2 separate regions of the Homo sapiens genome follow, and region 1 is linked to region 2. Evidence: fine-mapped expression QTL. A gene starts in region 2. The other region holds a variant in brackets. All regions are shown on one strand. Distances are from middle to middle.

Region 1 (5,380 bases), 23 kb after region 2:
TTTTTGTATTTTTAGTAGAGATGGGGTTTCATTGTGTTAGCCAGGATGGTCCCGATCTTCTGACCTCGTGATCCACCCGCCTCGGCCTCCCAAAGTTCTGGGATTACAGGCGTGAGCCACGGCACCCGGCGACAAGTACATATTTTCTTGATAGCACTACTACAGTACATCTATTCCCGTTGTGAAGGGGGAAAATTCAAACAGCAGTTCACCTGCAATTTGAAAGCCTGAAATACTGCTGATTCCCCACAAGGAGGCTCCATTATCAAGTACAACAATTTTCAAAGCGGGAATGCCCCAACGATTTTGAAAAGCAACACATCAGAACACATTAAACTTTCATAATCTTTAAATGCTTTAACATTCTTATTGATAACAGTTTGGCTTTAATTATCACATAAAAATTTAATCTATCATTTTTGTGCTATGCAAAGCCAAGACAAATGTATCATATATTAAATACATAATTTAATTAAGCTGAGTATTTAAACAAGGCCGAATTTTTTTCTCAGTGGGAGGAAGGGAGGACGATTGGTGATTATACTAAAAACCAATTTTCTTATGCTTCAGTTATTACATGTGATCAAAGAGTTATCACACAGGTTCAACTTTGGCTTTCTAAGTCAAACAAACAAGCTTTATCTTGGCTAAAATTCTTTATAAGGCAAAACATATTGACTGGTAGCTCATTGCCTAATTGATAACACATATGTCATGGCATTATTTTAATATGACTCTTTAACAATAAAACAGTTAATATTTCCTATTGGATCGTGTAACATCTTAAAATATTGGTAATAACAGTTCCAAATGGTTATAAATGTATTTGAAGTATTTGAACAGGAAATAGAGACTAAATATATACATAAATAATTTGTTACAATTTAGATTTCTTTGAATGCATAATGTTGAAATTAGTTTTTCCTTTTGCATCTTTAATTCTCTGAAAGAAGAACTTAGAATGACTTTTAGTGCTCTAAGCGTTCAATTAACTTTTCATTTAAATTATTTATTTTATATGATGGATGGAATGCATCAGGGCAACTGAGAAATAAGGCAAATTTCTTACATTTGGAAAATAGAGTTAGGCTTGTGATTTGAAAGTTTTAGTTTTCTAAGACTATTCTTTAGAGAGTGGGATTTGGGATGTATCTAGCATTTATTGATTGCCTCCATGAAGTCCTTTGCTCATATTATTTCATATCAATGGGCCGGATATTACTATTCCCCATTGCATAGATGAAGAAGCTGAGACTCAAAGAAAAATAACTTGTTCAAGATAATATAGCCAGCTAAACAACAGCAGGATTGGGATTAGAACCCACAGCAGGGATGGATGGGAAGAGAGGCAGACAAGGGTGGAGGTTTGGGGATCTGAGAGTGAGGAGGAGGCAGGATGAAATTAACAAGGGTAGAATCTTTTCTGGGAGTTCACAGAAGTAGTAATTTATATCCCTTAGCATGCCTCCTTTATCCCTATCAGGCCCTCTGCGGCTGGATGAATCTCTGTTTTTCCAGTCAGTTTGAATCTTAGCATCAATATTATATTTGAAATGTAAGAGTGAAATTGCCTTTCTGTGACATCTTTTTAACTGATTACTGGGCACTTAGGCAACCAGCTCCCGAATGTCTGGTTACTCTTAATAAAGGTCAGGATTGCACCTAGCTAGCCTCACTAATAGAGGAGACCTTGTGGCCATCTTTCATAGCAGCCTGAGGCAAGTTGTCATGAATTCACTGAAACTTGCTGATTTCCCCTGTGCACCTGAAAGAACCTGGTTCCCTTAGTGATGTCCATTCAGCCTGAATAACTCTACTGCTTCCCCTCTGCCAGCACACCACCCACCCTGTCAACGATGGTGAAAATCTGCAACCTCTTGTTTACCTTCATGTGTGGGGAGCCTCTCCCATCCTTCTCACAAGGATATAAGGAGATTGCATTCTAACTTGCTTTGATTACTCTTAGCTTACATACAGAATCACCTCTTTAGAGGAAAGGGAAGTTTCTCCCAGTTCTGTCTTTGGAAATGGGAGATTGGTCTTGGAGTCTTAGACTAACACAGATAGATCATTAATCACAAAGACTGTCTCTGGAAACTGAAAAAGGTCAGATTCTCTTAGAAACTGTGGGATGGGTGTGGTGGTACATGCTCATAATCCCAGCACTTCGGGAGGCCAAGGTGAGTAGATGGCTTGAGTCCAGGAGTTCAAGACCAGCCTGGGCAACATGGTGAAACCCCATCTCTATGGAAAAAAAAAAAAAAAAAGTTGGGTGTGGTGTTGTGTGCCTGTAGTCCCAGCTACTCAGGAGGCTGAGATGGGAGGATTGCTTGAGCCCAGGGAGGGTGAGACTGCAGTGAGCCGAGATCATGCCACTGTACTCCAGCCTGGGCAATAGAGTGAGATGAGACCCTGCCTCAAAAAAATAAGTAAATAAAATAAAAATGAAAAGAAAGAAACTGCACAATAAGACAAGGGCAGGGTGGAGAGTTTGTTTTAGTTACACAAGACACCCATGCAACACGACAACACCCCTTTAAAACATA[C/A]AAAGTCACATAACTTCAGAATTTCAAGATTTAGTTAAAAAAGAAAAGAAAGGATGGAAAATGTGATACTGTATACATTTTCTGCTGTCTTTGTGCTACTGAACATTCTCTAATGAATGTCTCCTAAACATCTTTCTGTGATCTACTTTGAAAGGAGAACAGAAGGGAGGGAAGAACAGAGAGGAGACTAAAGAGAGATAAGGAGAGGGAAGGAAGAAGAGGGGGCTAAGGAGGGAGAGAAGAAGATAAAGAAAATTTACAAAAGAAAGGAAGAAGGAGAGAGAGAAGTTGTTTGCTATTGTGGCATATTAGGTGAGCAATGAACACTTTGTGCATTTATTCGTTTGACACACAGTTATCGAGCATCTATTATGTGCCAGGCTCTTAGACCCCGGTTGAAAGCAGTGAAACAGATAGTTGTCTTATGAAGCACATAGATTGGGCGAGTCACAAAATTTTTTAAATAAAGTAAATTAGGTTGCAAATACACTCTTAGTTCACTTTATTTTTACATTATTCCTCTCATCCTCCATAACAATGCCTCTCATTCTACTCATAAACCCAAGTAATATAAATGAGCCACTCTAGACTATTAAAATATACCATTGTCTCAAAAAATGTTTTTCAATGTAAGCATATTTGTACTTTTGCTTTCTTAATTGGAGCAATGTTTTTGTATTACTGCGTGTCTACACATTTTTTAAAGAGCTGATAAAAAGATGTTTGTTCATTTCTATATAGTCTACTCAATCAGCCTATTTGCAAAAATTTTCCTGAAAAATAGGTAGTGGAGAAAAGTCAGGGTCAAGAGTGGATTTTATTCTAAATCAATATTTGGGATAAATGCAAACAAAAATAATCAGAAATTAAACAAAGAATATTGGATTTAACATGAAATGGATAACCTGACAGCCTCTTCTAAAACAAATAAAATACTCTTGTGTATCAAAGCGCTTAAGTCCATAACAGAGGTGAACTTGAGGTCAATGCTGTCAAATAATTTCTAAGTAGTTTCCAGATTTTTTTCTTTTTTTTTTTGCCTTTGGTGCCGAAAAGGCTAATCAACTTTATGTACTTACAACTTACCTTCAATTTATCAAACTGCAGGTATAATAGTCAAAATATTCAACAACCAATATGGTATGAACACAGATGCTGCTTCTATATCTTAAAATGTATTTTTCAGCATCCTGGCTGAATAAACATCCTCCCTAATTATGGGGAAAGTGGTATGTCATTAGCATGGAATGAAGTTCCCCTCCTGATCCATTAAAAGTTAAGCTACTCCTTTCACTAATTTTGTCCTCAAATAGTATAGCTCACATGCAAAAAGGGGAGAGGACATTCCTCCTGAACATATTCTCTGCTTTTGGAGAACTTCTCAACCTTTCTAAAATATTGTATTGGTATTCTGGTTGTTGACATGATGTGGAAAAGATGTAGAGGATACAGTTGGAAAGAAATGTCAGTTTATTTAGTGCACATTGAAACATCAATAGTCGTGCTGTGAGACACAGAGCAAGAGGTTGAAGTGTGGACTGTTAAGTGCTGGCTTCCACAGATGTGAGAACCTAGCTATGCTTTGGGACTGCATTTCAAACAACCCCAGGTTCTGTGGGAGGCAGGACTGCTGTTCCACAATGGGGAAGGAGAGAATAGGTTTGCTCCATGTGATATACTGGGGCATCTCTTAGTGTTCGCCTGTCTAAAGTTGACAGTGAAGGAACAGTGCAGATCATTGGCCCTAAGGAGGGCATAGTGAGCAGGGCTTCGATGGCACAGTAATGAGGGCCTGGGTCACCCCTATGGGCAAGCCACCCGGTCTAGTGGAGGTACCAGCCAAAAGTAATGAGAATTCAAAAATTGAATATTAGTTGCAACTCTGCAATCAGGTGCAGCAGTGGGGATTATACTTCATTCCACCAACTTTCCTTTTGTAAATTTCACTGGAAAAGAGACCAACCAAAAGGAAGCAGGTGGTGTGACTGTTTTATACAAAGCAAATGGATCTGAGCAGTTCAAAGGGTGCACTGAATGGATAATGTGGTGTCTTGCTCAGATACCTGCTTCAGGACCAAGGCATTCATTTCCCCAGCTGTCAGAATTATTACCTGTTGATGGCTCAGAGCAAATCCCTCACCAAGAATTGCCCTCAGGTGAAAGGAATTTCTTCACCCAGCATTATGACCACTCCCCAGGTGCAGCCCACATCCAATGACTGGTCAGTGTGGTGATATACAAATCAGGCCCCCTTGCCTTAATTTGGAACAACTCAGAAAGGCCAGCGTAGCTTCCAAGCTCCAGTGGGATTAGCTGAGATGTTTTTTTGCAATTACATCACAATTCGACTCTTTTTGCTCAACCCTGGTTCCTTAACGTCTCACAGTTTTTATCTTGAGACCATTGCACAATAAACTTCCCATACACAAATCTGTTTCTCTATCTTTTTCCTGGGAAATATGACATAAGATAGTTTCCTATTAAATATTTTTAAAATATGTAGGAAATGTATGTTTGTGACATCTTTTATCAAAAATATTCTGGAAATATGCTATGCTTGAGTTTATTTTAACTAATTTAGCAAACCTTAGTAAAGCAAATGTAAAGATTTAGCAACGGAATAATATTTGGCAATTAGCTGTAAATCACTGGACAGGCATTTAAAGCATGCTATTTGGATGGCTATGCTTCATTTTTAAGTAATTCATATGTGTTCAGCCAAATCAAATAAACTGCTTTAGTTCTTTTCATAACATCTGAGGTTAATAAAATAAGTAAAAGGGTTGATAAGCTTTCAGTTTTCCATGTTTTTAATTTATGAAACATTTTTAAAC
Region 2 (5,380 bases):
GGGGCCACAGACATAATTTGAGTAATGAATATATAGATTATCTTTGAAGTCCTGGATGTGAGTGAGATGGGGCCGAGGGGGGAGTCCAGAGGAGCTGAGAACAGGGCTTTGATGAACTCCAGCATGTAAAGGCAGGTGGAAGAGGATGAACTGGCAGAGGAGAGGACACTGAGAAAGATGAGGAAGGAAGGAAGCAGAAGAGTGCAGTCCTTCTGGTCCTTCTGAACCATGCACTTGCTCACGGCCCTCCCTTATGCTATTAGCCCCTCCTCCCCTGATGAAGTTCAGTCTCCAGAGCATGGCCTACAAGGCCCATCATAAGGTAGCCCCAATAAACTTTGATCATTTATTTCCTTCTTCACTCCCCATCTCCAATATCCTAGAATTCAGACACTGCTCACTTCAACACTAACCTCCAGACTTTGCACATTCATCAAATGTTCTTTCCCTTTCTTCTTTTTTTAAAAAGTCTAATGTCACCTCTTGTACAAAGTCTTTGTCAGGAAGACAAATAATTTCACTCACATATTTTTAAGACAATATTTAGCACACTGTAATATACTGTGTTGGCCGGTGGCTTAAGCTTATTTGGGCTGGGTTTCCTATCTTATATGTTGTTTCCTAAAACTAAGCACAATCTGAGAAGATTGTGTTTGCCAAATAAATTAATGTATGATAATTATATTTTTGCTTTGATTGACAAAATTAAGACAAAATCAGTCTAGATTAAGCTGGCATTGACTGCTCCCAAGAGGATATTTGGCAATATCTGAAGACAGTTTTAGTTGTCACAGCTGGGAGAGGTGCTACTGGCATCTCGTAGGTAGGAACTAGGGATGCTGCTGAACATCATACAATGTATAGATGGCCCCTGCAATAAAGAATTATCTGGCCCAAAAGTCCATGACGCTTAGGCTGACAAACCCAGTTTTGGTTTGCCACCTTAAACGTTCTTCTATTTATACTGTAAATTTCCTGTAGGATATTTTTTCTGAATGAAATAAGCACTCCAATACTAATACCATTGATTCTAAGATCTACAAATATACTAGTCATTCTTTAGAGCAGTGTTTCTCAAATTTGTGCATCAGAATCACTGGGAGGGCTTGTTAAAACATAGGTGCCTGGGCCCCACCACAGGAGTTTCAGTAGATCAGGGGTATCCTATGCACTGTAGGCCTGATAATTTGTATTTCTCAAGGTTTCCAGGGGATGTTGATGCTGCTGGTCCAATGTCCATACTCTGTGAACCACTGCTTTAGCGAAGAGCCCAGGGTTAGTTAACCTGAGGGTTTATCACACTTTTCCCCATTAGAGGCCATGCCCAGAAACTTGAGATGCAACTTCCCTGGGTAGCCCTGCCTTTCTTTTCCCCGTATCTCCCAGCCAGGTACCTGGAGCTGCATCTGTGGTGATTGCCAGGCTGGCAGCACCTTAGACTCAAAACATACCCCATTCCTGAGAACAGATGAAGGCTGCTAGCAGGGCAAGGCACCAATCCCTCTCCCCCCATTTATCAGCCAGTAGGGGCCTGAGGTCCAGGCCCTTGGAAATGAAGTAACATCTAAAGGAACTATCCTAGCTCCTCAGAGCACCTGTATCAGAATCACCTACGGGGTTTAGAGTCATGGGCCCATCCTTAGTAATTCTGTCAGCCTGGGAATCTGCATTTTATGAAACTCTTGACATCAGTGCTTCTGTAAGTGTGGTCCTGGGACCAGCATCATCATCACCACCCGCGAACCCGTTAGAGATACAAATTCTTGGGTACTTCCCCAGACATATTCGAAACGCTGGGGTTCAGACCTCGTCACTTGTATTTTAACACGCCCTCTATGTGAATTCTGTTAGCTCAAGTTTGAGAATTACTGGTTTAAATTAGTCTGCTTCTCAAGTTTAAGATGTCTGGATGTAGACTTCTGGATTTTTCTTTCACTTCACTTTCTAGATTCCTTTCCTACCTGTATATACCAAAAGCACCCACAGGAAGCAGAGTGCCCCCCCCACCACTCCCCAAAAGGCCTGCCTGTAGAACATTTGTACCCTACAAAAGAGAGCAAGAGTGAACTTTCGTTGAATCTGGTCATTTGTTTGCATGCCAGTCGGCACTTTATCTGGCCGGACATTGGTCCCTCAGGAGGTCGACCTGGCACTCTCGGAAACCCGAACACCCGGGCCGGTAACCTCCGGAGTGGCGGTGTCGCGGGTCGGCTTTGCAGCGGGTACTGGGCTGCCGTCCCGCCCCGCGCTCCTGCGTAAACACGCGGTTCCCTCGGCAACGCTGGAACCCACGTCAAAGGCTCCGCCAGGTCCCCAGCGACCGCCACCCCTCCGGCCGAGCCCAGCTCCCCGCGGCGGCCGCTAGCCCCCGGCCCCGAGCCACCACTCCGACCTAGCGGCCGCCGCCCCCGGTGCGGGATGAGGAGATCCGCGGCCGCCACTGGGCCCCATGGAGGAGCCGCAGCCGCCCCGCCCACCAGCGAGCATGGCCTTACTGGGCAGCCAGCACTCCGGCGCCCCCTCCGCGGCCGGCCCACCTGGCGGGACTTCCTCCGCGGCCACGGCGGCCGTGCTCTCCTTCAGCACCGTGGCGACCGCGGCGCTGGGGAACCTGAGCGACGCAAGCGGAGGCGGCACAGCTGCCGCTCCCGGTGGCGGCGGCCTTGGCGGGTCCGGGGCAGCGCGGGAGGCGGGGGCGGCGGTGAGGCGGCCGCTAGGCCCGGAGGCGGCGCCGCTGCTGTCGCACGGAGCTGCAGTGGCGGCCCAGGCGCTCGTCCTCCTGCTCATCTTCCTGCTGTCTAGCCTTGGCAACTGCGCGGTGATGGGGGTGATTGTGAAGCACCGGCAGCTCCGCACCGTCACCAACGCCTTCATCCTGTCGCTGTCCCTATCGGATCTGCTCACGGCGCTGCTCTGCCTGCCCGCCGCCTTCCTGGACCTCTTCACTCCGCCCGGGGGTTCGGCGCCTGCCGCCGCCGCGGGGCCCTGGCGCGGCTTCTGCGCCGCCAGCCGCTTCTTCAGCTCGTGCTTCGGCATCGTGTCCACGCTCAGCGTGGCGCTCATCTCGTTGGACCGTTACTGCGCTATCGTGCGGCCGCCGCGGGAGAAGATCGGCCGCCGCCGCGCGCTGCAGCTGCTGGCGGGCGCCTGGCTGACGGCCCTGGGCTTCTCCTTGCCCTGGGAGCTGCTCGGGGCGCCCCGGGAACTCGCGGCGGCGCAGAGCTTCCACGGCTGCCTCTACCGGACCTCCCCGGACCCCGCGCAGCTGGGCGCGGCCTTCAGCGTGGGGCTGGTGGTGGCCTGCTACCTGCTGCCCTTCCTGCTCATGTGCTTCTGCCACTACCACATCTGCAAGACGGTGCGCCTGTCGGACGTGCGCGTGCGGCCGGTGAACACCTACGCGCGCGTGCTGCGCTTCTTCAGCGAGGTGCGCACGGCCACCACCGTCCTCATCATGATCGTCTTCGTCATCTGCTGCTGGGGGCCCTACTGCTTCCTGGTGCTGCTGGCCGCCGCCCGGCAGGCCCAGACCATGCAGGCCCCCTCGCTCCTCAGCGTGGTGGCCGTCTGGCTGACCTGGGCCAATGGGGCCATCAACCCTGTCATCTACGCCATCCGCAATCCCAACATTTCGATGCTCCTAGGGCGCAACCGCGAGGAGGGCTACCGGACTAGGAATGTGGACGCTTTCCTGCCCAGCCAGGGCCCGGGTCTGCAAGCCAGAAGCCGCAGTCGCCTTCGAAACCGCTATGCCAACCGGCTGGGGGCCTGCAACAGGATGTCCTCTTCCAACCCGGCCAGCGGAGTGGCAGGGGACGTGGCCATGTGGGCCCGCAAAAATCCAGTTGTACTTTTCTGCCGAGAGGGACCACCAGAGCCGGTGACGGCAGTGACCAAACAGCCTAAATCCGAAGCTGGGGATACCAGCCTCTAAGACGGTTGGAATGGCCAGCTTATGAAGGCAAATTTCCACTCGCATTATTTAATGATGGAAGATTCTGGGGGAGAGTTGTGGATTTCATAAAGCCAAACATTTAAAGCTAGAGACGGGGGAGGCTTACCACTTTCCCCAAACAACATAAAAGACAATGTCCCTTCTTCAAAAGTGCCAAAAGGAATGTAAAATGCAAAAATTAAAACAATCTTAAACCACATAACCAAGCATTGTGAACTGTAAGTGCCAAAAATGACAAAAATAACATTCACTATAACTGAAAAGCTCATATTATAGGACCACACTGTGAAACAAACAAAACATTGAATGCAACCAGTATTGTTCAACTACACAGAATTTCAGGAATGAATGGAGACCTTCAGAGCTGCTTGAAAGCCCCTCTAAATCGCTACCATCCAACAAAACTTTAGCTTCTAGAGCTTGCACCTCTGACATGCTTTGGGTGCTTAGATTGCAAGTGGAAAAGTCTTATCCTTACACACATTGGTGCACCTCCTCACCCCACCCCCTAATAACCTTTGTGGAAAATTTTTAATTCATAACCCATTTAAAATCATTTTAGGATTTTGAAAAGCTGGTTATTATTAGATAAAATTCAACCATCTGAAGGACAAATAGAAGTATGAACATAAAGAAATGTGTCTTTTAAATGTTTTCCAAGATTATATGTAAAAATTAACATTCCTTCCACCCGCGTCATACCTCCAAAATGATCTTCCTTGGAAAACTTTGAAGTTTTATCCTTACTCTAACCTGTTACTTTTATTTCTGATAAATTTTGGAATGCTGCTCTCAGAATGCTTTCACATTTAAAAAAATATTTTCATTGTAGAAAATTTTTGTCTTTTGAGGTAAATTTGATTTTTGGATATAGCCAAAAATGTAATTTGAAGTCAAGTTGATTGAATAAGGTGAGTGATGCCACTTTATTTAAATTTTTATTATTTTTTAAAATGAGACCTCTATAAAACAACAAGGTTGGGTTTCCTACGTGGCTTTTAGCTAACTGAAAACGATTCCAAAGAGAAATTCTAAAACTATTTTGAGAAGCAGCCTCTTGGAATTAGCGTAGACTTTTCCAAATAGATCATACCCTCCTACATTTAGAAATTTGGTATATTTTGTATTTTTTAAAATAGCTGATGGTTGCTTTATAGCTATGACTTGTCGAAGATAATGTATTTATTAAAGGGAGAATAGGTGTGGGACTATATGTAACGGTATTAAAACACAGGCATAAAGTTGGAGAAGAACTTCAAGCAAACTGAAAATATCTTTAGAAATATGCAAATCAAAGATGCTTTTTAAATTTCTATCTTAGCAGAAAAGATGGTTTTACAATAATTCAAAAGCGTATGTGAACTTTCTAATGTTAAATACGACTATACACAGAATCATTTACTCAGAATTTTTTTAAATATTATT

Direction of the effects. Alleles are on the strand shown, and positions count from the first base shown. SD is a standard deviation of normalised expression in the study named.
With allele C in place of A in region 1, the expression in thyroid of the gene that starts at base 2,296 in region 2 is lower (moderate effect, 0.53 SD a copy in GTEx).

The links.
Region 1: its variant is fine-mapped to the expression of GPR135 in thyroid (GTEx, PIP 0.95).

The regions. Positions count from the first base shown.
Region 1 is chr14:59,439,276-59,444,655 of GRCh38, reverse strand. No RefSeq gene overlaps it. Among named protein-coding and RNA genes, the nearest start is that of GPR135, 23 kb to the left of the region's middle. The variant C/A (reference allele first, on the strand shown) is at 2,547.
Region 2 is chr14:59,462,296-59,467,675 of GRCh38, reverse strand. It overlaps GPR135 (G protein-coupled receptor 135), which reads left to right and starts at 2,296. Exons shown (of 1, transcript NM_022571.6): 1 at 2,296-5,380. The coding sequence starts at 2,450. The coding sequence ends at 3,934. It also overlaps a transcript of L3HYPDH not described here. RefSeq lists a silencer at 2,226-2,765.